Regions from separate parts of the Homo sapiens genome. Here region 2 is linked to region 1. A link means that fine-mapping ties the variant in region 1 to the expression of a gene that starts in the linked region. Tissue or cell type: unexposed skin. Region 1 holds a variant in brackets; the other region holds the start of a gene. All regions are shown on one strand. Distances are between the middles of the regions.

The links. PIP is the estimated chance that this variant, and not a neighbour inherited with it, causes the effect.
Region 2: it holds the start of BAZ1B, and the variant in region 1 is fine-mapped to the expression of BAZ1B in unexposed skin (GTEx, PIP 0.93).

The regions. Positions count from the first base shown.
Region 1 is chr7:73,421,111-73,423,790 of GRCh38, reverse strand. No RefSeq gene overlaps it. Among named protein-coding and RNA genes, the nearest start is that of FZD9, 11 kb to the left of the region's middle. The variant C/AC (reference allele first, on the strand shown) is at 1,122.
Region 2 is chr7:73,521,027-73,523,706 of GRCh38, reverse strand. It overlaps BAZ1B (bromodomain adjacent to zinc finger domain 1B), which reads left to right and starts at 1,414. Exons shown (of 20, transcript NM_032408.4): 1 at 1,414-1,880. The coding sequence starts at 1,774. RefSeq lists silencers at 801-940, 1,291-2,170 and an enhancer at 1,071-1,230.

The DNA of each region.
Region 1 (2,680 bases):
GTGGGGCTGTGACCTTCAGCCTCCGCAGACCACGTCCTCTCTCAGCCTGGGGCATGTGTGCAGGATAGGAGTGGGCCTCCCCGCCCCCCACTGGCACAGCCTCTTCCTCCCTACTGTCTCCCTTCAGTCCCCCCAGGTAGCAGTCAGTCCCTGGTCCAAGGGGCAGGTAGCACTTGGCCCAGCCCCTCACCTTGCCCCAGTGATGTGTGCCGGGGCGGGGACAAGGGTACCTGTCTCCACTACCCTTGCTCTGGCAGGACGTCTTTAGGGTGGGGGGTGCCACTCCCTGCCCCCAGCCCTACACTAAGTTTTTCCCAGCCTCCTATGAGTGCTTAGTGGCCCCACCTGGTCACAGCAGGAGCTTTATTTTGAGACAGGGTCTCACTCTGTCGCCCAGGCTGGAGTTCAGAGGCGCGATCTTGGCTCACAGCAACCTCTGTCTCCTGGACTCACAAACCATCCTCCCACCTCAGCCTCCCAAGTAGCTGGGACCACAGGCTCAAGCTACCACATCCAGCTAATTTTTGTATTAAATATTTTTTGTAGAAATGGGGTTTTGCCATGTGGCCCAAGCTGGTCTCAAACTCCTGGGCTCAAGCAATCCTCCTGCCTTGGCCTCCCAAAGTGCTGGGATTACAGATGTGAGCCCCTGTGCCCAGCCCAGCAGGAACTTTAAAAGAGCTGCACCTGGGCCAGGCGTGGTGGCTCACACCTGTAATCCCAGCACTCTGAGAGGCCGAGGCGCATGGATCACGAGGTCAGGAGTAGGAGATCAGCCTAGTGAAACCCCCATCTCTACTAAAAATACAAAAATTAGCTGGGTATGGTGGCGTGCGCCTGTAATCCCAGCTACTCAGGAGGCTGAGGCAGGAGAATCGCTTGAACCTGGGAGACAGAGGTTGCAGTTAGCCAAGATCACGCCAGTGCACTCCAGACTGAGTGACAGAGCAAGACTCCATCTCAAAAAAAAAAAAAAAAAAAAAAATCTGCAACTGGCCAGGTGCGGTGGCTCAAGTCTGTAATCTCAGCACTTTGGGAGACTGAGGTGGGTGGATCGCTTGAGGTTAGGAGTTAGAGACCAGCTTGGCCATCATGGGGGAACCCTGTCTCCACTAAAAATA[C/AC]AAAAATTAGCCAAGTCTGTTGGTGCACACCTGTAGTCCCAGCTACTTGGGAGGCTGAGACAGGATAATTGCTTGAACTGGGGAGGTGGAGGATGCAGTGAGCGGAGATTGCACCACTGCACTCCAGCCTGGGCGACAGAGCAAGACTCCGTCTCAAAAAAAAAAAAGAAGAAGAAGAGTTGCACCCTATCTCCAGGTCACCCGGGGACCCCTGCTTGACTTGTAAGCAGCAGCCCTTGGTCCTCCTTACACCAGCACATGGCAGATCCAGCCTCCCGGGGGTTCCCCACGGCACATCCCACACCCAGTCTTTAACTGTACTCCAGTCCCACTGACTGCGGGCAGGACCCAAAGTCTGCCGTTCACTCCTCAAGAGGCCCCTGCACCTGGTATGCCCGAGCTGTACCTAACCTAGTTCGAGCTAACTCAGTCCTAGGACTTGACTTGGTCATCACCCCCTCCAGGGCATACCCACCTAACCTGCCTTGTCATCTCCCACCCCGTTGTCCCCCAGGCTGGGTCCAATTCATTGCCGTGCCCTCAGCACTGTGCTAAGTACGTATCTGTTGAATGAAGTCCTCTAGAAATGAGAGTTGGACACCCCAAGGAGGAGACACTCACCTGGGTCCTCGATCTGCTAACTTCATGGCCATTTGGGGTTCTGTTGTCCCCCCACTGTATTATCCTGGAGCTCCGGGCCTCCTCCTCCCTCTATTCCTCTTTGTCCCTTCTCCTGCCTGCCATGTGCCATGATCTGTGGAACCAGGGCCTGGGTGTGGGCCTGGGGGTGGGGCCAGGCCTGCAAGGAGGCCCCTGACATCCCCGCAGAAACAGGTGCTTTTTTTTCTTTTTTCAGACAGGGTCTCACTCTGTTGCCCAGGCTGGAGTGCGGTGGTGCAATCATGGCTCACTGCAGTCTCGATCTCCCAGGTTCAAATGATCCTCCCACCTCAGCCTCCCAAGTAGCTGAGACTACAGAGCCCGAGCCCACCACCACGCCTGGCTAAGTGTTTTTGTTGTTTTTTTTTTTTTTTTGAGATGGAGTCTTGCTCTGTCGCCCAGGCTGGAGTGCAGTGGTGCCATCTCTTCTCACTGCAACCTCCACCTCCCGGGTTCAAGTGATTCTCGCACCTCAGCCTTCGGAGTAGCTGGGACTACAGGCGTGTGCCACGAGGCCTGGCTAATTTTTGTATTTTTTAGTAGAGATGGGGTTTCATCATGTTGGCCAGGCTGGTCTCGAAATGCTGACCTCAAGAGATCTGCCCGCCTTGGTCTCCCAAAGTGCTGGTATTACAGGCATGAACCACCGTGCCCGGCCCTGGATAATTTTTTATTTTTTGTAGAGATGGTGTCTTGAGACGTTGCCTAGGCTGGTCTCGAACTCCTGGCCTCAATGTATCCTCCTGCCTCGGCCTCCCAGAGTGCCAGGATTATATGCATGAGCTGCCACACCCAGCCCCTTTTCAGTCAATTCTTTTTTTTTTTTTGGCTGGAGTGCAGTGGCACAATCTCAGTTCACTGCAGACTCTGCCTCCCGGGTTCAAGTGATTCTCCAGCCT
Region 2 (2,680 bases), 100 kb before region 1:
AGACCCTGTCTCTACAAAAAAAATAAAAAATAAAAGGTAGATCCAATTCATTCAAATAGTATTCACTAGCACCTACAATGTTCCGAGCCAGGTGCTGAGTATCATGGGAGAAAAAAAAAAAAAGCCAGAGTCACAGCTCTGGCAGGGCGTGGTGGCTCACGCCTGTAATCCCAACACTTTGGGAGGCCGAGGCGGGTGGATCACCTGAGATCAGGAGTCCGAGACCAGCCTGACCAACATGGTGAAACCCCGTCTCTACAAAATACAAAAAATAGCCGGGTGTGGTGGCGCGCACCTGTAGTCCCAGCTACTCGGGAGGCCGAGGCAAGAGAATAGCTTGAACCCGGGAGGGAGAGGTTGCAGTGAGCCGAGACTGCACCACTGCACTCCAGCCTGGGCAACAAGAGTGAAACTCCGTCTCAAAAAAAAAAATAATGATAATTTTGGGAGGCCTAGGCGGTCGGATCACCTGAAGTCGGGAGTTTGAGACCAGCCTGACCAACATGGAGAAGCCCCGTCTCTACTAATAATACAAAATTGGCCGGGCGTGGTGGTGCACGCCAGTAATTCCAGCTACTTGGGAGGCTGAGGCAGGAGAATCTCTTGAACCCGGGAGGCGGAGGTTGCGGTGAGCCGATATCGCGCCATTGCCCTCCAGCCTGGGCGACAGAGCGAGACTCCGTCTCAAAAAAAACAAAAACCAAAAACCAAAAAACTAAGTACGTCTTTTAATCTATTTCTCCAAAGAAGCTTCTATATTCTACTTTCCAGCCAGCCCCTAGAAACAAGCAGTATACTTCTACCCAGATCTCAACCACACTCCCGCCCAGAAGTTAACTCTGGGGTGAGCAAAGCTGGCCCCCACGTTGTCCTTCCGCAGAACCTTTGGTAGGGTAAGCTCCCGGGGCCACTTCCCGCCAACCCCTCCCTGCAGCCCAGCCCCACCCGCGCATCCCCGGGCGTGGCCGAGCACGGCGCCTTTAAGAAGGGGGAGGCGCCCAAGAGGAAAGACAAAGCCCCTGGCCGCGCGCTCACCCTCCCCCTCCGGCGCACCACACGGACAGTGGTGCCCGGATGTCGGTGTCGCCGTCGGTGACAGATGGCGCAGTATCTGTATATGCGAGGGGCTTCTCCGGCTTGACCTCTTTGAGTTCTCGTCCTCTCCATCCCCCGCTGTCCCCCACTTTTAACTCTGCCGTCGGAGGCCCGCACGCCTATCACGGGCGCTTACATAACGTGACCTTTCACCTCTTCAGACTGCCCTCTAGTGCGCTGCAACCCAACTACGCGACAGGGGCAGGGGGGCGGGACCCAGGCGCGGAGCGGCAGCTCCTCCGAGCCAATAGGCTGTGAGCGCTGACCAGCTCTCCGCCTATTGGAGCATTCGCCACCGGCGCCACGGGGGAGCAAGTTAGTGTGTGCGTTGGCCGGGCCCGGGGGAGGAGGGGAATCTCCCGCCATTTTTCAATAATTTCCTCCGGTGCTGCTGAGGAGGAGTCGTGACTGCCGGCCGCCGGGACCCGAAGCGGAGGTCGGCGGGGGGCTGCTGGGAGGCGCGGCGGTGTGCGCGGGAGCTCTGCGCCGTGGCGTTCCGCTCCATGACTGTCGCGCGGCCGCGCCGGCGGTGAGGGAGCCGGAGTTCGCGCCGCCCTCTCACCCCTCCCTTCCCCCACCCCACCCCCGGGCGCCTGGCGCTCGCTCCGGGCCGCGGGGCCTAGTGCTGCGCCGCGGGGCCGGCCCCAGCAGCCGCCAGTCCCCACCGCCGCCGCCGCGATGGCGCCGCTCCTGGGCCGCAAGCCCTTCCCGCTGGTGAAGCCGTTGCCCGGAGAGGAGCCGCTCTTCACCATCCCGCACACTCAGGAGGCCTTCCGCACCCGGGAGTATCCTTTTCCAGCCGCGCGGGCCGGGCTGGGCCGGGCTGGGCCGGGGTAGGGCCTGGGGCTCGCGAGACCAGGTCAGCCGCGCATCCCCGGCCCGGGGCAGCTGTCAGCGCGCCCCGGCCGCTCGCGGGCCTGGAGGCTGAGTCTCAGCCTGCGCCCGCCGATCCTTCCAGGGGATCCGGCGGGGGGCGCGCACCGGCCCTGGAAGGAGAAGGGCCCGCTTCGGCCGCCCCCGGGGCCCCGCACTTTGTCCCGGGGCCTCGCCGGCGAGGAGCGCATCCCCCATCCCCATTACCTTCCCCGGGTTGGCTTTAGGCCTTGAGGACCCGAGAGGGAGGAGGAGGCGTGGGGAGGGGGAGCTAGGTTTTCTCCTTTAATTTTTACAAAAATTTTTTAAAAATTTAAATGAAACCTGCAGCTTAAGTTTTGAAATTGTACTCGCGCGGCCTCGTGATGCGGCGTGTGCAAGACTCAACTGCGTCTTACCCCGATCTCTGCGGGGATACTTGGCGTTTTTTTCGTCTCCCGAGGGGACTTTAGGCCGGGGATGAACTGACAGGACCCTGGGGCAGAAAACTAGGAATGAGATTCCCCGCTTAGAGGAAAGGGAGGGAAGGAAACTGCCTGTGGAGGAGCTGATGCCTGCCTTCCCTGGGCAGACACAGGTTTGAAATTTTGAAGGTTTAGAAGGAGATTGGTATTTGTTAAAATTAAACAAACAAAAAAACCAAGACGTGAAGTTTTTATGTTGTATTTTAGGAACATGAAATTGGATGTTTTACAAAGGAAGCATCCTCTCG